Regions from separate parts of the Homo sapiens genome. Here region 2 is linked to region 1. A link means that fine-mapping ties the variant in region 1 to the expression of a gene that starts in the linked region. Tissue or cell type: tibial nerve. Region 1 holds a variant in brackets; the other region holds the start of a gene. All regions are shown on one strand. Distances are from middle to middle.

What was found. PIP is the estimated chance that this variant, and not a neighbour inherited with it, causes the effect.
Region 2: RAB11FIP4 starts here. The variant in region 1 is fine-mapped to the expression of RAB11FIP4 in tibial nerve (GTEx, PIP above 0.99). The same link has a PIP of 0.9 or more in esophagus muscle.

Annotation. Positions count from the first base shown.
Region 1 is chr17:31,412,131-31,423,459 of GRCh38, forward strand. The region is part of intron 1 of RAB11FIP4 (RAB11 family interacting protein 4); the gene reads left to right. LOC124903977 (a long non-coding RNA gene) reads right to left here and starts at 2,970. Exons shown (of 2, transcript XR_007065706.1): 1 at 2,733-2,970; 2 at 2,127-2,251. RefSeq lists enhancers at 1-288, 2,219-3,182, 3,658-4,498, 4,499-5,338. The variant C/T (reference allele first, on the strand shown) is at 4,403.
Region 2 is chr17:31,387,991-31,396,343 of GRCh38, forward strand. It overlaps RAB11FIP4 (RAB11 family interacting protein 4), which reads left to right and starts at 3,685. Exons shown (of 15, transcript NM_032932.6): 1 at 3,685-4,021. The coding sequence starts at 3,863. RefSeq lists an enhancer at 2,900-3,489.

The sequences.
Region 1 (11,329 bases):
GCTGCAGGCAGGGGTGTGGAGCAAGTGAACCTAGACAGTTCATCCTCTAGGGGTGACTGCGCACACCACCACCCTCCTCTCACACAGATGCCGGTTTTGCCATGGAAATGGCCCATTTAATGTCCTGTGCAAGGGAGAAAAGCTCTAGATCCCCAGAGCAGGGGTCCCACCCGTGTCCAGCAAACAGAGGGAGGAAAGGGTATTCTGATCCAGCAGTTGGTCAAGCAATGTGGAAATGGAGCCCGCTCCCCCTTCACTTTAGTCCAGGAAAGCCTCCGGGTAAAAATGCTGACTCCAGCCTAACCTGTCTCAAACTTACGGATTTCAGAAACCTTTCTACATGTAACACATTGACACTCTCTAAGAAATGCCATCCTGGTGATCTTGGGTGAAGGACTCAACCTCTCTGGGTCCCACTTGCTTCATCAGTGAAACTGGAACCTTAATCCCCATCCTGCCCTGTCCCATCACAGGGACCACGGATAGGAAGGGGCGGGGCCACCTTAATCTCTGCTGCCCACAGAGCCTGGGAGCTCCTCTTGTCCCCAGCCCCTGGCTAGACCTGGCCCAGGAAATGTACGTGAACACCAGTGAGTCCCAGGGAGCAGGCAGACACCAGGCGCAGATAGGTTTCAGGTCCTCTGCCAGGGCTACAGGCTGCACCTCCCCTGGGATCCAAGTGGGGTTTCCGTGGTGGAGAGATTGACCAGTGGGCAGTGAGGTGAGGAGCAGTACCTGCCCCATTTCACAGGCAAAAAAACTGAGGCTCAGAGAGGTCGGGGTCTGCCAGGGCCTCATGGTACGTTTGAAATTCCATTATGGGATTCCCAGAACAAGTCGCCCTTCTCACTTGCCATCTTGTGTTGTACTGACAGCAACAGTGGAATTTCTGCCTGGAGCCACTGTATTTTGCTTTGTTTCTGTAGCTAAACCTCAATTTACTGAAAGGCCATGAGGTGTCCTGGTTAACTCATTTTCTGGGGAATGGAGGGAGGACTGGCGGGAGCTTTTCAGTTTGAGTCTAGTTGAAGTGTCAGAGCTGGGGAGCTCGGCATGTTTCGGATGGGGCGGGATAGATGGGTTAGAGGAGGCAGGGTCCAGGGACCACAGCTCAGAGTGGCCCAACTCCTGCAGGCCAGCACCCCCCTTTGATGAGCAGACATTCCCATGTAACCTTAAATAATGGGTCTAAAGCCAACCAAAGCCCACAGCGAGCAGCGCCTTTCAAACTATGCTGAGAGCCAGAGATGTCAACAGAGGGCCTCACACGGAGGGCACGGAGGGAGCTGTCCTTCCATAGGCCCCCCGAGAAGAGAGTGTCTTCCCTCTTCCCCCGCCCCCATATTTAGCCTCCCCCTGCCCTCCAGCCACTGAGAACAGCTGGTGGTTCCTCAGACCCTTCGAGCACCTCTACGGCCTGGCCTTGGCTACCCTCTCCCTCCTCCCTCCCTTTTGCTCACACCAACGCCCCGCTTCTTGAATTCCCATTCCCCACACCTGCTGTGTCAGTTCTTCCACCTGCAGTCCAGCATAACCCCCTCCTCCTCCAAGGCCCTTCCACATCTCCCAAGCCCTCTGGGCTGTCTGTCTCCTCTGGGCCCCAAAACTGCAAGGATTTGGGGTAACACCTTCGAGGGGGTTACATTGTGATGGATTCTGTCTTATCTTCCCCTACAGTGCTATCAGCAGTTTTTCAAAAGAGTCATAAGAGTTTCATTGAGTTTTTTTCCCCGAAGTTTAAAAATGATCCAGTTCATATTTTAAATTCAGCCAGTTAAAAATTGCTGGAAGAAGAGGTGCAACGACTGGCTGTCCCAGCTCATGAGGTTCACGGGTGTCCGCAGCTTCCTGACCAGCGTCCAGGCATGCTCTGCCTATGAAAGCCTCATTTATCCCGAGCCTGCTCTGTGTCAGCTGCCAGGCTGTCTTGATATGCCATCCCCTCTCAGTCCTAACACATGATGAGGCAATGATGTTGCTCAGGGAGGTTGAGTCATCCACCACTGGTCACACAGCTGGGAAATGGAGGAGGTGGGATTCCAGCTCAGCAATGTCTGCCTCCAGAGGCTGGGAGCCACGCTACCCTGCCTCTGGGCGTGTGGCAGTATTAACAGTCACCTACACACTTTTATGCTATTCCCGAGGCTATTTTTATTTCACTCAAAAATAACTCCAGGACATCTGTTCCTTCCCTGGGAGCTTCCTGGGAGCCTCTCTGTCTCCCCACAGGCCAGTCAGTCTGGCTGAAGAGCTGTGGAAACATTTGCAAAAGGAACGGACAGATGGGCGGATGCCTGCAGAGGCCAGTCCACTTCAGAGACCACCCAGGCTTCTGTCACTTTCGCTCCTATTCAGACCCCAAACAAAGCCCTTGTGGGTGGCCGGAGGGATTCTGTCAGCCCAGACTCAGGCTGTGAATGAGGGGCCACCTGATGACACTCAGATGGATGGAGGTGTTGGCGGTCCCATAAAGGAAGATGTCTCCAGCTGTGGCGGCTGGGACAGCGCTTCCCAGGAGGCGGTGGCCTGGGTACCATGTCACTGGGCCATGGTGCTGGCCAGCCCTCTGGATGTCTAGCCACCCTGGCCAGAGGCACTCCAAAGCCGCACAGGCCCTCTCCACCTCCCCTCCCATCACCACCTTTTATCCCAGTGGGTCCCTGAGGCGGGGTCCTTCATTGGGCAGGGGCCCTCCAGCTGTGAGAACCAGGAAGCAATGCAAAATAACTTACATGCTGAGGCAAGTGTATTCTTCCTTATAACACAAGGGTCCAAGGTAGGGCAGCTCCAGGGCTGGTTCCTCAGGGGCTCAGAGGCACCAGCTAGGACCCAATCCCCTTCCATTGAGCTTCCCAGCGTTGACCCAAGAGGGCATCCCTTCTCCAGCAGGGGAAGCAGGGAGGGGACAGCTTCCTGTTCATGGGCCCCACCCTCCAGAGACAGCCTCTCCCAGAGCCCCCTGCAGATGTCTTCTCATGGCTTATTGGCCAGAGATGTAGAACATGCCTTTGCCTGAACCAATCACTGGCAAGGGGGAAGAGCCCCCCGGAACTGGCTTGGTCCAGTCAGAACTCATGCTCCAGGTTGAGTGGCCCCAGGCACCTGGTCAGACAGGAGGTGGGCACCTCAGGCCCAGGGGGCGCTCTACGTGGACAAAGAGGAGGGGAGGGGCAGGATAGTGGTGACTGACGAATCTGCCTCCGTTCTTGTCATTATTTCTTGACTTTATAGAAGAGGGGAAGTAAAAGGCTCGGAAGAGAGGTTGAGTAATTCCCCAGGGCCACACCCACTCCAAGGTCCCCAAGCCATTTACTTGTTCCGTGGTGAAGCTCCAGTAAATGGAGGCATTTTTCTCCCAGTCCTCTGACCCCGTCTGCTTCTCCACTCTGGTTTTCTTCTCTTCCTCCCCCCAATCCCCATGCCCACCCCAAACATGCCTGAAAGCATTACGATCATAGAGACTTCAGAGCTGGAAGAGACATTCAATATTAATGTTATCCAGTGCTGTCATTGTCCAGATGGGGAAACTGAGGCCGAGAGAGGGGAAGGAGCTCAGCGAGACCACTCAGTAAAGCAGTCTGTGGTGGAGCTGGGACTGGATGGAGGGCCCAGGAAGCACAGCATCCCTGAGATTCTCAGAGGGTCTCAGGGACCACCCTACTTTCTCACCTCAGCCCCCCTGCGGACGGTCTCCGCAGCCTCCCAGCTGGCTGGTGGCCCCTCTGCCTGTCCCTTCCCGGGGGAAGGCTCACCCTCAGGCCCCCTTTATGCATCTTTGCACCTGGCACATCCATGGCACTCTGCAGCCTCTGATGTCCTTGACTCATAGTCTGATCTGATCGTCACAGCGGTCCTGTGAGCTGGTCGGAAGTGCATTATAGATACAGAAACTGAGGCCCAGAGAGGCAACAGGGCTTGCCCGAGGTCACGCAGTGGTACCTTATCGAAGCCCAGGCAGAGCCCGCTCTCTCGGCATGCGACCTGTGCAGTCACTCAGGGATTAGTGCTCTGGGGTTGCCTTCTTGAAATTCGTGGTAATGTTCCCCTTTGCCCTGGGCGCCACTAATTGCGGAGCTGGTCCTGGGCCCGGGGCTCCTGACTCCTCCAGGATGCTTTCCACAACCACATACCCCCTCTACCAGTGGCCTACCCAGGGTAAGTCTGACTGATTCCGTGGGACAGCCCTTCACATGGAGGGGAGCGGGCTTAGGGAGTGGGAGCAAGACAGTGGGATGTTTTGGCCTGGGCTCAGGGTGCAGGAACTGGAAGGACCCACTTTGGAAATGCCTCCCTCATCCCTTGTCTCAGGCCGGTGTTGCTGAAGTTCTTGCCTGGCTCCCTTCCCATCCTGGCCTCAGAATTAATGGAGAGGGCCAGTGGCGGCCTGTGCCCTTTGTCCCAC[C/T]GGCCGGCCTGGGGGTGGCGGCTCCAGAATACAGGGTCCTATTGTGTGCCCTGATGTCAGGCAGCTGGACTGCTGGGAGTGAGGATAAACAAGCAGCTGGAGCATCTCGCCTGAAGCCCCAGGAGAGGGCCAGAGCCCCTGCAGCAGCAGGAGAAGGGGCCAGTCTGAAGAGGGACAGAGCTAGGGGCAGTTGGATTCCAACCCTGCCTGCTGTGCGGTGAGGCCAGCACAGCAACAGGGTCCACTGCTGTAAGAGGGGAATGACTGGCGGTTTGGCTACTTCACAGGGCTGCTGGGAGTGATGCACTTGAGTGCTTCGAAGGCTGCCTGACACCAGCCAGCTCTGCCGCTGTCAGCACTTGCCCCTGTGCTTCCTATCGCCCATATTCAGGATAAAGCACATACAGGCCCTTTGCCTGGCTCGTAAGCCCTTCTCTTTCAGGCCTGTTCCCTCTCTCTTTGGCCCCATCTCTTGATGACGCCCCCTCCCCATATTCCTTCCATCCACCCCAGACCCCCTGCGTTTGCCAGCATTGCCCCCTCTCCCTCTCCTGTTCCCTCTTGCTGCCCTTCACGTCCTTCCCCACTGTCCCCCTCACCTGGCCAGCTCCTAGCAGGAAACCCTGCAACTGGTCCTGGGATTTACGATGCCTCCGGTACCCCAGTGTCCTCACAGGTGTCTCCTGACTGTAAGGCCTCCAGAGTGGCCACCCCTGAGCAAGGATCTGGCCCCAGCACCTGCCTCACCTCCTCCAGAGGGTCCCTTCCCCAGAAGCACTGCCAGGGAAATCTAGGCTCCACGTGGGTTCAAAAGGCACTTCCCGGCCTGCTGCAGGGAGTCTCCAGGTGCCCAGACCTGCCACTGTCTTTGTAGGCCCCTCTCACCCCACAGGCACTGTCCTTTCCCCTCTTTTCCCATCTGTCTTCTATTGTGGCTGCTAAAACAGCATAAAAATGCTGGGGAGTTTCAACTTCACCCTACTCCAAGCCAAGCCCTGAAACCCCTTTTGTGGATATAGACGATGTCAGGTGCCCAGCCAAGCCCAGGTTAGTGCCTGGGGTAGCAGGAATTGCCACTCCGATGCCCATGGGGGCCAGGAAGGAATGCAGCCTAGGTGGGGCTGCGGTGGGGAACTACTTGAGATTTGGGGGTTCCCATAGACAGCTGGGGAGCAGAATACATTCCCTTTCTAAAGAGTGTGCTTGAATTCAGCTGTCGCTCATTGTTGCTGTGGGGGAATATGGGACCTGTATTGCCAGATCTGATTTTTCAAGAAAAGCCAGGGGCTGGGCATGGGGGCTATGCCTGTAATCCCAACACTTTGGGAAGTCAAGGCAGGAGGATCACTTGAGGCCAGGAGTTCAAGACCAACCTGGGCAACATAATGAGACCCCATCTCTACAAAAAATTAGCCAGGTGTAGTGGTGTATGCCTGTACTCCCAGCTACTTGGGAGGCTGAGTTGGGAGGATCCCTTCAACCTGGGAGGTCGAGGCTGCTGTGAGCTATGATCATGCCACTGCACTCCAGCCTGGGTGACAGTGAGACCCTGTCTATAACAAAAATAAAAATAGGCTAGGCGTAGTGGCTCATGCCTGTAATCCCAGCACTTTGGGAGGACAAGGCGGGCGGATCACCTGAGGTCAGGAGTTCGAGACCAGCCTGGCCAACATGGTGAAACCTCGTCTCTACTAAAAATACAAAAATTAGCTGGGTGTGGTGGCAGGCACCTGTAATCCCAGCTACTCAGGAGGCTGAGGCAGCAAAATCGCTTGAACCCGGGAGGCGGAGGTTGCAGTGAGCCGAGATCGCACCATTGCATTCCAGCCTGGGAGACAAGAGTGAGACTTCGTCTCAAAAAAATAAAATAAAATAAATAAAAATAAAAATTTAAAGTCAGATATCCAACTTTGTATGTGCAGTTCCCTTGATTTTTTTTTTTTTTTTTTGAGACAGGGTCTCACTGTGTCACTCAGGCTGGAGTGCAGTGGCACAATCACAGTTCACTGCAGCCTTGACTTCCCGGGCTCAGGTGATTCTCCCGCCTCAGCCTCCGAAGTAGCTGGGACTACAGGCGTGCACCACCACACCTGGCTAATTTTGTTCATTTTTTGCAGAGACAGGGTTTTGCCATGTTGCCCAGGCTGGTCTGGAACTCCTGAGCTCAAGCGATCCTCCTGCCTTGACCCACTCCCAAAGTGCTGGGGTTACAGCTGTGAGCTACCGTGCCCAGCCAGTTCCCTTGATTTTTAAAGAAAAATTTTAAAAAATTGTTTTTACTTTACATACAGTAAAATTCGCTTTTTGGGGGTGGGGGAAGAAGTGTCACTATTTACATAGACTCCTGTGACTCCCACTGCCATCAGGGACAGAACGGCTCATCCCCCAAATTCTCTCCGGCTGCTCCTTTGTCTTCAGTCCCTCCTCCTCGCTCTTGGCACCCACTGATCTGGCTTTGTCACTATGGTTTTGCCTTTTGCACGTAAATGGAATCATACAGTTTGTAACCTTTGGGAGTGGTTTCTTTCCCGTAGCATAATCATTTGTTCTTTTTGGTTAGGGAACACTTGCTTATCCATTCACTTGTTGAGAGACACTGGGGATGTTTCTAGGTTTGGGTGATTATGTGTAATGCTGCTGTGGACATTTTTGTGCAGTTTTGTGTGGGTGTGTGTGAATGTAAGTTTTCATTTCTCTAAGATAAGGAAGGATAAGGAAGTTCCCTTATATTTCTACTTTGTTGAGAGTTTTTTTGTTTTTTTTTTTTGGTATCATGAATGGATGTTAAATTTTGCCACTTGATTTCTCTGCATCTTTTGATAGGTTTTTCTTCTTTGGTCATGTTTAGATTACATCCATTAGTTTTCAAATGTTGGGCCAGCTTTGCTGAATAAACCCCATTCGGCTGCTTGTCTTGTTATATTTTTCATATATATCTCCTGGATTCGATTTGCTAATATTTTGCAGAGGCTCATTGCATCTGTGTTCATGAGGGATATTGGTTTGTAGTTTTCTTTTTTCTTTTTTTTTTTTTTTGAGACTGAGTCTCACTCTGTCGCCCAGGCTAGAGTGCAGTGGGGCGATCTCGGCTCATTGCAAGCTCCGCCTCCCGGGTTCACGCCATTCTCCTGCCTCAGCCTCCCGAGTAGCTGGGACTACAGGCGCCCACCACCATGCCCGGCTAATTTTTTGTATTTTTAGTAGAGACGGGGTTTCACTGTGTTAGCCAGGATGGTCTCGATCTCCTGATCTCATGATCCGCCCACCTCAGCCTCCCAAAGTGCTGGGATTACAGGCATGAGCCACTGCGCCCAGCAGGTTTGTAGTTTTCTTATATTGCTTTTGTTTGGTTTGGGTAACAGGGTATTATTGCTGGCCCCATAAAACGAGTTGGGAAGTGGCTCTTCTATTCTCTGGAAGAGGTAGTGTAGAATTTATGTATATTTTCCTTAAATACTTAGTGAAATTATCTGGTCCTGAGGTTTTCCTTTTTGGAAGGATATAAATTGGGAAATTAATTTCTTTAATCACTCAAGGACTGTTCAGATTATCTATTTCTTCTTGCATGAGTTTTGGTAGTTTGTGTTTTTCAAAGAATTGGTCCATTAGCTCATCTAAGTTGTAGAAATTATGTGTGTAGAAGTGTTTCTAGTGTTCCCTTATTAGCCTTTTAAAGGATGTAAGACTGTAATGATATCTCTGTTTTCTTTTTTTTCGAGACAAGGTCACACTCTGTCACCCAGGCTAGAGTGCAGTGGTGTAATCAAGGCTCACTGCAGCCTTGACCTCCCTGGCTCAAGCGATCCTCCCACCTCACCCAACCCCGGTAGCTGGGACCAGAGGCATGTGCCACCATGCTTGGCTAATTTTTTTAATCTTTTGTAGAGATGGGGTCTTGCTATGTTGCCCAGGCTGATCTTGAATGCCTGGTCTCAAGCGATCCTCCCACCTTGGCCTCCCAAAGTGCTGGGATGACAGGTGTGAGCCACTGTGCTCAGCCTCATTTTTTATATTGGTGATTTGTATTCTCTCTCTCTTTCTCTCTGTCATTCTGGTTAGAGATGCATCAGTTTTGTTAATCTTTTCAAAAAAAAAACCAGATTTGGGTTTTGTTGATTTTTCTCTACCAGTCTCATTTTTAATTTTATTAATTTCTGCTCTTATCTTTATTATTTCTTTCCTCCCTTTTGCTTTGGGCTTGAATTTTATGGTATTGTATTTTCATTTTCATTTAGTTTAAATTATTTTTATTTTCTCTTGAGACTTTGGGGCTGGGTGCGGTGGCTCATGCCTGTAATCTCAGCACTTTGGGAGGCCGAAGGGGGTGGATCACCTGAGGTCGAGAGTTCAAGCCCAGCCTGACCCATATGAAGAAACCCCATCTCTACTAAAAAATACAAAATTAGCCAGGCATGGTGGTGCATGCCTGTAATCCCAGCTACTCGGGAGGTTGAGGCAGGAGAATTGCTTGAACCCGGGAGGCAGAGGTTGCAGTGAGCCGAGATCACGCCATTGCACTCCAGCCTAGGCAACAAGAGCAAAACTCCATCTCAAACAAACAAACAAACAAAAAGATACTTCATCTTTGACTCATGAATTATTTAGACACATACTGCCTAATTCCCAAGTATTTGAGGATTTTTCAGATGCCTTTCTGTTTTTGATTTTTTTGCTTGTTTTAAAATTTCTTTTCTTTTCTTTTTTTTTGAGACAGTCTCGCTCTGTTGCCCAGGCTGAAGTGCAGTGTGTGATCTCAGCTCACCGAAATCTCCATCTCCCAGGTTCAAGTAATTCTCGTGCTTCAGCCTCTCAAGTAGCTGGGATTATAGGCACAGGACACCATGCCCAGCTAATTTTTGTATTGTTAGTAGAGATGGGGTTTCACCATGTTGCCCAGGCTGGTCTTGAACTCCTGACCTCAAGTGATCCACCTGCCTCAGCCTCCAAAAGCTCTGGGATTACAAACGTGAGCCACTGAGCCCTGAGACTGATTTTTAGTTTAATTATATTATAGTCACAGGACTTTTTTTTTTTTTTTTTTGAGACAGAGTTTTGCTCTTGTTGCCCAGGCTGGAGTGCAATAGCGCAATCTCGGCTCACTGCAAACTTCGCCTCCTGGGTTCAAGTGATTCTCTTGCCTCAGCCTCCCTAGTAAGCTGGGATTACAGGTGCCCACCACCACGCCCAGCTAATTTTTTGTATTTTTAGTAGGGATGGGGTTTCACTATGTTGGCCGGGCTGGTCTCAAACTCCTGACCTCAGGTGATCCACCTGCCTCAGCCCCTCCCAAAGTGCCAGGATTATAGATGTGAGCCACCACGCCCGGCAAGACATACATTTATAATTTCAGTTTTTAAAAATTTGTTGCCAGACTCTGTGGCTCATGCCTGTAATCCCAGCACTTTGGGAGGCTAAGGCAGGAGGATCTCTTGAGGCCAGGAGTTCGAGACCAGCCTGGGCAACATAGTGAGACCCCCCGTCTCTACAAGAAAATTAGCTGGGCGTGTTGACATATCCCTGTAGTCCCAGCTACTCGGGAGGCTGAGGTGGGAGTATTGCTTGAGTCTGGGAGGTGGAGGCTGCAGTGAGCTATGATCACACCGCTGCACTCCAGCCAAGGTGACAGAGTAAGATCCTGCCTCCCCACCACACACAAAAAAAGTATTATAGTTTGTTTAATCGTCCAAGATATGATCTACATGATCTACCTTGGTGACAGTTCCATGTTTACATGAAGAGAACGTGTATTCTGCTATTCTTGGGTGGTGTGTTCGATAAACATCAATTAGGTTAAGCTGGTTAGTGGTGGTATTCAGACCTTTTAGATCCCTTGTTGATTTTTCATCTAACTAGCTCTACTGTTAAAAATTAGATTTTCTATCTAACTGGTTATATTCTCTAGAGGAGTGTTGAAGTCTCCAACTATGATTGTCAATTTGTCTATTTCTCCTTTCAATTTTATTAGTTTGGCTTCATGTATTTTGAAGCTCTGTTTTTAGGGACATATGCATTTAGGATTGTTATGTATCTTCTTGGTGAGTTGACCCTTTAATATAATGTTTGTCTGAATCCTTGGTAATTTTCCTTGTTTGGATTAGGCAATTTCTGTTGTTCTATCACTGTTTGTACTGTGATTTCCGTTCTGCTATTGATCCAATCCAATGAACTTTTATTTCATATATTGTATTTTTTAGTTCTAAAATTTCCATTTGGTTCCTTTTTTCTAGCATCTATTTTTCTGCAAGAATTTCGAAATTTCCATTTATTTCGGATTGTTCACCTTTACTGAACCATGGAGCATGGTTATAATAACTTTTTTAAAGTCTTTGTCTAATAATGGCAACATCTGGGTCATCTTAGCATTGGTATCTATCTATTGATTGCCTTTTTTTTTTTTTTTTTTTTGAGACGGAGTCTCGCTCTGTCACTCAGGCTGGAGTGCAGTGGCACGATCTCGGCTCACTGCAAGCTCTGCTTCCTGGGTTCATGCCATTCTCCTGCCTCAGCCTCCTGAGTTGCTGGGACTACAGGTGTCTGCCACCACGACCAGCTAATTTTTTGCATTTTTAGTAGAGACGGGGTTTCACCATGTTAGCCAGGATGGTCTCTATCTCCTGACCTCGTGATCCGCCCGCCTCTGCCTCCCAAAGTGCTGGGATTACAGGCGTGAGCCACCGCGCCCAGCCTTTTTGTCTTTTGTCTTGTACATTGTTGTCAGCTTTTCCTGTTTCTTTGTATGTCAAGTAATTTTGGACTGTGTCTTGGACATTTGGAATACTGTAAGACACTGGGGCCTGTTAAAATCCTCTGAAGAATGTCAGTTTTTTCTTTGTTTGTTTATTCGTTTGTTTTTGAGACAGGGTCTTGCTCTGTCACCTAGGCTGGAGTGCATTGGCATGATCATGGCTCACTGCAGCCTCAACCCCC
Region 2 (8,353 bases), 26 kb before region 1:
GGGGCATTTTTCAGCCTACCATGCCATATTTGTCCATTCCTTAATTTATTCCTACACAGACCCTAACTATGTGTGTATGGGCATTATTTAGGAGCTACAGAAATCAGGAGAGAAATAGACACAGTCCCTGCTCCCAGGGACCTCATGGTCACTCCTGTGACCTTTCATACAGTTTCCCAGATAATCCGGTGATAGACAATAGGAGTAAGATGGTAAGGATAGTCACAAGGACAATAGCTGTCACTAACCAGCAGCACTGTTCTGACACTTACAATGTATGTATTAACTTACTGACTCTCACCACAGCCTTATCCATACCTGTAAGTGGGCTGCAGTCTGTACTTTTCACTTCTCTGCAGGAGCACATGGGAGAGGTGGTCAAGGTGGGCAAGGAGTGGGGTGGTCATGAAAGGCTTCCGGTAGGAAGTGCCACTTCCACAACACAAGGACAGGAATTAGAGAAAGTGGAATTGGGTGGGGGTAGGATTGAGACCTCCCACCCACTAAGCAAAGGGAGGCAGGAGGGAGCCTGGATGCTCCCAGACTAGGGTTAAGGAGAGGCAGGAGAGTATGAAGACACTGCACAATGCCAGCTCAGGCAATGGTGGCCATTGAGTTTTCAGCAGGGGAGGGACCTGATCAAACTTGTTTCTTCCTAGAGAAGGGGCCGGAGTCCCAACTGTCCCTTCCATGTATATTTCCCAGTATATTTCCAGCCTGCCCAGGCTGCTGCAGCTGTTGGAAATCCCCTGGAGAATCAGAGGTCACCTGGAGGAAGCGGAGGACAGAAAGGAGGCTCCGCGCCTTCCCGCCCTATCCATGGGGACCTCTTGCTTTCCTGGAGCAACCCCCTTCACCCTGCAGCCGGCCCTGACATGGGTATTCTCTTGCTGCTTCTGCTCGGGGCTGCACTCTGAGCTCTTGGATCAGGGTTTTGGGAGCCCTAGTGGTCCCAGGTCCACTTCCAAGGACCCAAGGACTCCATAAATTGCACCATCTCTGAGGGACCTTTGGGTAGGCACTCAGCCATTTCTGCAGGCCCTCTTGGGCTCCTAGAGCCTGGCACCTCAGTGTAGATCACACTGGGCCATGACTGCCCCCATCAAGTTCAGCAAGTGGCTGCACCCCTTTCACTGTCTCCCTAGCATACCCAACACAACGTAGGTGCTCAACAAAAACGTGACAACCCCAGAAAGAATGCCTGTGACGTGCTTTGCTGGCCCCAGCAGCACAGCGGTGAGCAAGAGACCCAGTGCCACTGGTGGGGGAGGCAGGTGTCCTTCAAACCATCGCCCACCAGAGACAAAACTGCAGAGACCTGGGCAAGGAGAGTCCGGTCAGGGAAAGCTCTCCTGGGGGATTTTTGAATTTGTGATGATCCTGTCTTTGACAAGAACTGGCTAATCTGGTTGCGGGATTCTGTCTTGGTTCACTTGGGATTTGTTCATGCTCAGGTCTGAGGTCCCCGCCTCTGCCAGCTGAAGTGGGTGAGTCTTCCAGCTCCCCTGTCCCCAGTTAGGGGGCATTCAATGCCAGGCTGAGCGCGGAGAGCCATTTCTGCAGCCCCCACCAGGGGGCAGCCCCAGCTCCTGGCCATCTCCTTTCTGTGCTGAGCCCCTTGGGTGAGAGAAAATGGCACGAGCTGACCTTGGACGAACTAATATCGGGGTCCCAGGGGCAGGCAGCAGCCCCCAGCTTCCACTCCCTACCTCCTTGCCAGGGGGCTGGCTGGATCTCCAGCAGCCAGTCTCTCCCAGCCAGCTGCTTGTCCTTATTCTCCACTTCCACCTCCATTTTGCAGGGTAGGTCGGGGGAAAGCAGCATTGCTTAGATTCGCTCTCATCTTCAGTTGCCCTAAAAGGAAGGTACTATTATCCTCACGGTACAGGCGAGGAAACCGGCTAAAATATGCTAGTATCCTGCTGAGCGGCATCCAGCTAGCAGAGACGCTCCTACTCAGCCGAATACCCCTACTCCACTCCCACGGCCTCCCCTTTCCCGCTTTCTCACATTTCGGACTCCTCAATCCTCAGAACCACAGGTCTCTCTTCCCAAGAGGTGTTGCCTTTCGTGGCTCTCAGACGAACTGAAGGGTCAAAGGAGAGTAGCTAAAAGCCAGGTTCATCCCAGGAGCCGGGGCTGGAAAGAAGAGGTCCCCGCCCACTGTCAGAAGGCAAATGGCAGTCCCTGCGCAGGATATATTCAGGGTTGAGCAGGAAGACCACAGAGGTACAAACCGAGGCCCAGCTAGGGGAGGCCATGCAGTTCACCCCGTACTCCCTGTCTGCGCCACTACGTTGCTCCCGGCTCCTCACATAATGGGCGGGCCCATCCCCTCTGGGTGGGGCTTCCTCTGGGCCCACTCTTGCCTGGAGATCAGGGACTTGAAGGTAATTAAGACATATCTTGCCCTGGAGGGCTTCCCAGCATGGTAGGGGAAATGGGCATCCCACTAGAGAATTAAGAATTAACTGGGCACCTGGAAGAAGGGCTTAGAACTCAGAATAGAAGATAAGATGGCGTGCCATCAGAGAAGCCTTCCCGGAGGAGGAAACCTCTGTGCTGAGCATGACAGCATAGGTGGGAGTAGACTCAGCCAAGGCCTTTTTTTGGGTTGGGGCCAGTCGTTGCCACAAAGACCTGATGTGCCGAGCAAGAAGGTGGAGAGAAGAGCCCGGCCGGGTCCTGCAGGGCCCCGAGGCTGGGCTGGGAAGTTAGCACAAGCTGGGGTGGAGGCTCCGCTGAGCACTAATGGGAGGAGGCCAGGGTCCTGACCTAGAGCCTGCGGCCAGCGGGACAGAGATTCTGTCCTGGATTCTCTGAGCTTGGGGCATGCGGGCTGCCAGGGAGGTGTGATGGTGGGAACCCGGCGAAAGGGAGGAAGCCTCTTCCAGGCGTGGAGCAGCCTTGGGCCCTGAACAGGCAGGCCTCTGGAAGCGCCTCGCTTTTCCTCCCTCCGGCCTCATCCTGGTTTTCTCCTCATCTCCCCGTCGCAGGGTCCCGGGTCCAGGCTGGGGTTCAGTTGCCTGCTCCTCCTCTCTGTGCCCTCCCCCGCCCGATGGCCCCACAAGTGCTGTCTTGCAGGAGAGCGCCGGGAGACCGCAGGGCGGAGGTGAAGAACGGAGTCCAGAGCCCTCCAGAGATGGCAGCGAATCCCGGCCCTGCCTCTTGCCAGCTGTGTGGCCTAGAGTGAGTCCGACCTCTCTGGGCCTCAGCTTCCTCCGGGATGAATGCAGTCACGGAACGCGCCAATGCAGGAGGCCCCCAGGACATCCTGAGCGCTCGGGAGACGCCAGGCGCGGCAGCGGGCACGGATAGCGGAAAGGGGCGCGACCCCGCGGAATCCTCCGGCAGGGCAGGGCCTTTGGGTGGCTCCGGGTGTCCAGAGGAAGGGGTGGGCTCGGGGACGCGGAGGGAAACTGGGGACGCGGAGGGAAACTGAGGTCGCGGAGGACGCGGCCGTTGGCAGCTCGCTGCGCCTGCCGGCCCCGCGTGGGCCGCCCCACTCGGGAGGACGCGGGCTCCTTTTGTCTGCAGCGTCCCCGCCGCCGCCGCCCCCGCCGCCTCCCCCTCTCCCTCCCATTTTCGCCGCGGCCCCCGCCCCTCCCCTCCCCGCCCCCTATTGCCCCTCCTCCTTCCCCTCCCCACTCTTCTCCTTCCCTCCCCTCCCCTCCCTTCCCCTCCGGAGCGGCTGGGGCTGCGGCGCCGCTGCTGACACGGATCGGCCGCGGCCGCCACCGGGCGGAGGCTGCGCGGCGCAGACCCAGACGGGCGGCCCCGGAGGGCGCGCGGCGATGGCGGCGGCGGGCAGGCGGCGGGCGCGGCGGGCGAGGGGTCCGGGCTGAGCTGCGGGCCGGCCCGGATGGCGGGCGGCGCGGGCTGGTCGGGCGCCCCCGCGGCTCTGCTGCGCTCCGTGCGCCGCCTGCGCGAGGTGTTCGAGGTGTGCGGCCGCGACCCCGACGGCTTCCTGCGCGTGGAGCGCGTCGCGGCGCTCGGACTGCGCTTCGGCCAGGGCGAGGAGGTAAGCTGGCCCGACCCCAGTCCCGGCCCGGGGACCCCAGCCCAGCCCCGCCGCCCCTCCCCCAGCTCCCCCGCCGGGTCACCCGCGTGGCCCGAGGCGGTGGCCTCCCTCCCAATCCCCTCCCTCCGCCGGAGCCCAGGACCTCGGCCCCCCCCGGGTATCCCTGGCCCAGCCGGGCCCTCGCTTTCCGCCCCCCGGCGCCCGTGCCCCGAGCGTCACGCGTCACGCCTAGGGTGGCTTCTGCGCCCACCTTCCTTCCTCGGCCATGCAGGTCCTTCTGAGCGGTCTGCACATCCACCCTTGTCTGGGGGAGAGAGCTGCCAGAATCCGGCCCTAGGCTCCCCACCCCACCCGGCGCTGCGGAGACCAAGATGCAAGGGTCTGTGTACGTCCTGCTGGGCCGGGCCAGGGGGTGAAAGGGACCGGTAGGGGTGCTCTGCAGCCTTGGCTCCTCGGCTGCACACACCCTGCCCAGACACGGAAGGAGGTGTCTGCTGGGGCCACCGTGTACTCCCGGGCCAGTGTCGGGTGACCTCTCATTCAGGCTCTGCTGGGCAGCCAGGCTGGCAGCTGGCTGTGTTGGTTGCAGCAGGCCAGGCAAAGCCAGGCTCGGGGAGTGGTGGCTGAGCAGAGGGCTTTCATGTGGCGGGGCCGCATCTATTTGGGGAAAGCAGGACTTACGTAGATTGTTAACAGGGCTGGAAGCGGAGGGTCGGTGCCGCCAGTAGGGTGGACGGAGTCATATCACTAAACGCACACTACACCAGTGTCCTCTGGTGCCACCGGCATGGGGACTGGGGACTGTGTCTCAAGGGGAGGACAAGACACCCACCTGGCTGAAATGGTCAGGGGTTTCCCCTGGAGCCAAAAGCCCTGAGAAGTGGGTTTCCAAGGCCATCTAAGGCCTCAGGCCCTGCATGGGGGGCCTGGGGCCATGGGCCTCAAATGGGCACTGGCTGGCATTGTGTTCCCAGAACAGGTCGGACCAGGCATTTCAGAACATGGGAGAAGCTGGGTGATGGCCAGGTTGGGCCCGTGCCTCTGCGTCACCAGAGAGTGGGAGGCGATTGAGAATCATCTCTCCACCCGCACCTGGGCATGGGCCGGGACTTGTGAGTCGCTGAGAGCTGTGGGCAGAAGAGAGTGAGGCAGCTTCAGGGCTTGAGAACTCAGGTACCCACCACAGGAAAGACCACTGCAGTGCCTGTGAGAGCCCAGACTGCCCTCTGCGGGGCTTTGCTGAGGGACACTGCCTGCTGCCACCATGACCCTTCTTCCCCAAAGGCCAGCCAAGCCCTTCCGTTTTTCCAGTGGCTCCCATCTGGGGCAGGCTGAGCAGACTCCTGGCATGGGGATAGTCGCGCTCCTTCCTCTCAGAACACAGACTGCAGGTCGGGTAAAGAAGCTACCAGCTCTGGCTGAAACCTGGAGTCCCCGAACTCAGAGCCTCAGTAGTGGGAAGGGCCTCCCAACAACCTCTGGCAGGGGCCACCGGCCTCAGCCACGTGCCCAGCAAGCCTCACCCACTTCTCCCCCAGCTGGACAGTTCCTGCCATTAGAACCTTCTCCCTCATACACTCTAGAGACAGACCTGCTTGTCACTTAGTCATCACCGTTCTGCACGGGGACTCACATAGGTCTCTCTTCTTTGGGGGAGCCTTTAAATATTTGAAAATAGCACTCCTGCCCCTTCTCTCCTTCCCAGCTCCATACTCCCATTTTCCCTTCTCCAGGCCAAATACCCCAGTTCCTGAAGCCCTAGGCCATTTCCATGTGACCCAGTAGCCAGACCTCTGGCTTCTGGCCTTGGAGCTGCCATCGACTAATTCTGTGATTCAGTTTTCCTAGCAATAACATGAAAGGGCTGGACAAGCAGACCGCCCCCCGCCGCCCCCACCAGGACTATATTAGCCCCAAGACCTCACACATATGCACACAGCTTAGGGTGGGGCTGCCTCTGAATGGGGCACTGCACTCTGCTTATATTAAGTTTCTGGCCACCGAAACCTCCAGGGATCTGTTTTAGAAACCTCTGCCAAGCCAGGGATTCTCCACCCTTCGGGGAGGGTCAGTGATTTTTTTCTTTTAAAAGCATACTCTGAGATTACTACAGAAGCGGTGGATATGCATTGCAGAAAACTGGAAATAGGGACAAGCAAAATAAAAAGTATTGTGTCCTATCTCTCAGGCAGCGCCTCAATGACACTTCTGTCAGACCTTTCCAGAGCTGTTTCCATGCTTATATGTCAATTTTCTCCAGAAAATGAGATCATACTGTGCATACTGTTTTGTAACCTGATTTTTTTTGCCGGTAAATGATCATGACTTTTCTGCTTCAATAAATTTTCATCTGGTTTAATATGCAGACCTTTTTCAGATTTCCCTATTTGACCCCAAAATGTCCATTTTTGCTGTTTCCTCTCCAGGACTGTGCAGTGTATGTGGTTGTTGTCACCTTTTAGTCTCTCTTACTGTACACAATTCCTTTTTCTTTTCTTTTCTTTTCTTTTTTCTTTTAACAATCCTGGCTTGTGGAAGCATTCGGGCCTGTTGTCTGTCAGTAATTTCTGGAATCTAAGCCTGTTTCTTGGCCCTTATTCCCATTTAATTTCGTCTTGTTCATTTCATCACATTGTATCTGTCAAGAAAGAGAATCTAGCATCCTACCTCTATCACTCTCAGCTGTGCTGCTGCCTGCGGGCTGGAGAAGCAGTGCTTGGTGTGTCTGAATCCACAAGGCTGGTTAAACATTGCAGGGCAGGACCATGGACAGGGCCCCGAGGCACTTGTAGGGGTGGTTTTCGGCTTATGCTGTATTGACCGAGACCCGTGGAAATATATTTTGCATCTCTACTCACTACCCATCTTATCCCCTGATGCATTAAAAAATCGGAGTGTTGTTTTCCAGCGGTGGGGTGGCGGGGGGCGGGGGGGGGGGGCTCCCTTACGAAATGCAGTGTACTCTGACTGTTTCTATTTTATTTGTTTTAAAATCAGGCAGTGACATTGATTTCCCAGCCACTTGTGCTCTGGGATGGATAATGATCATTCATTAGATATGTAGTTCAGTGAACTTAGAGCTGATTGTCCACAGTTTACCACCTACCCCCAGAATACCAGGGATACCAGGATCAAATGCTTTGCAAAAACCAAAATATACTAGGTCATAAAGTATGAAATAAATATCCATGAGGCCATAATGAAATATATATATGTATAAATTATTGAACAGATGATAATAAATAAATAGGAAAATCTCTCGTATAGAAGAAATCTGAATAACGTATGTTGATAATTGCCCCATTGAGGAAGTGAAGCATAACGTCCCACCGTGTAAGCATGAGATGTGCGTAGTGGCTTCCTTATAAAGGGTAGAGTTTGGAAAGTGGGGGGAACAGCAACTGTATAGTGGAGAAACCCAACAAACACTGTCTCAGAAGGTGATCAAGGACAACATCGATAGTGACAGATTGTGATGATGGCATACACCCTTGGTGTGATGTGGTGAGAATAGAACTTTTCCTCTGTGGTCTTCCTCCCAAACCAGTAATCCCAGTCTAGTCCTGAGAAAAATGCCAGACAAATCCCATCCGAGAGGCATTCTACAAAATGCCTGATTAGGACCTCTCAAAATTGTCAAGGTCATCCAAAACAAGGAAATTTTGAGACACTGTCAGAGCCAAGTGGAGACTAAGGAGGCAGCTGACTAAATGCAGTGTGGTGTCCTGGATGGGACCCTAGAATCAAGAAGAGGACATTAGGTAAAAACTAAGGAAGTCAGGATCAAGTATGAATGTTACTTAATAATGTTATTTATGGATTAGGTTAGTCCCTGATAGTTCCCTACTTTGTTGACCTAGGTATCACAGCAGAAAAGAGGAGACAATGGGCCGGGCGTGGTGGCTCATGCCGGTAATCCTAACACTTTGGGAGGCTGAGGTGGGAGGATCACTGGAGCTCAGGAGTTCCACACCAGCCTGGGTAACATGGTGAGACCCCCCATCTCTACAAAAAATACAAAAATTAGCCCGGTGTAGTGGCGTGCACCTGTAATCCCAGCTAGTTGGGAGACTGAGGCAGGAGAATCGCTTCAACCTGGGAGGCGGAGGTTGCAGTGAGCTGAGATTACATCGCTGCACTCTAGCCTGGGTGACAGAGTGAGACCCTGCCACAAAAAAAAAAAAAAGAAAAGAAAAGAAAAGAAAAGAAAGAAATGCAGATTTTTGAGGGATGGGGGCACACCACTGCCCTGATCCTGAAAGTCTACAATGCCAGGGAGCAGGACTCTGATAAGTATGTAACATGATGGCTCAACATCCTGACCCTGTGTTG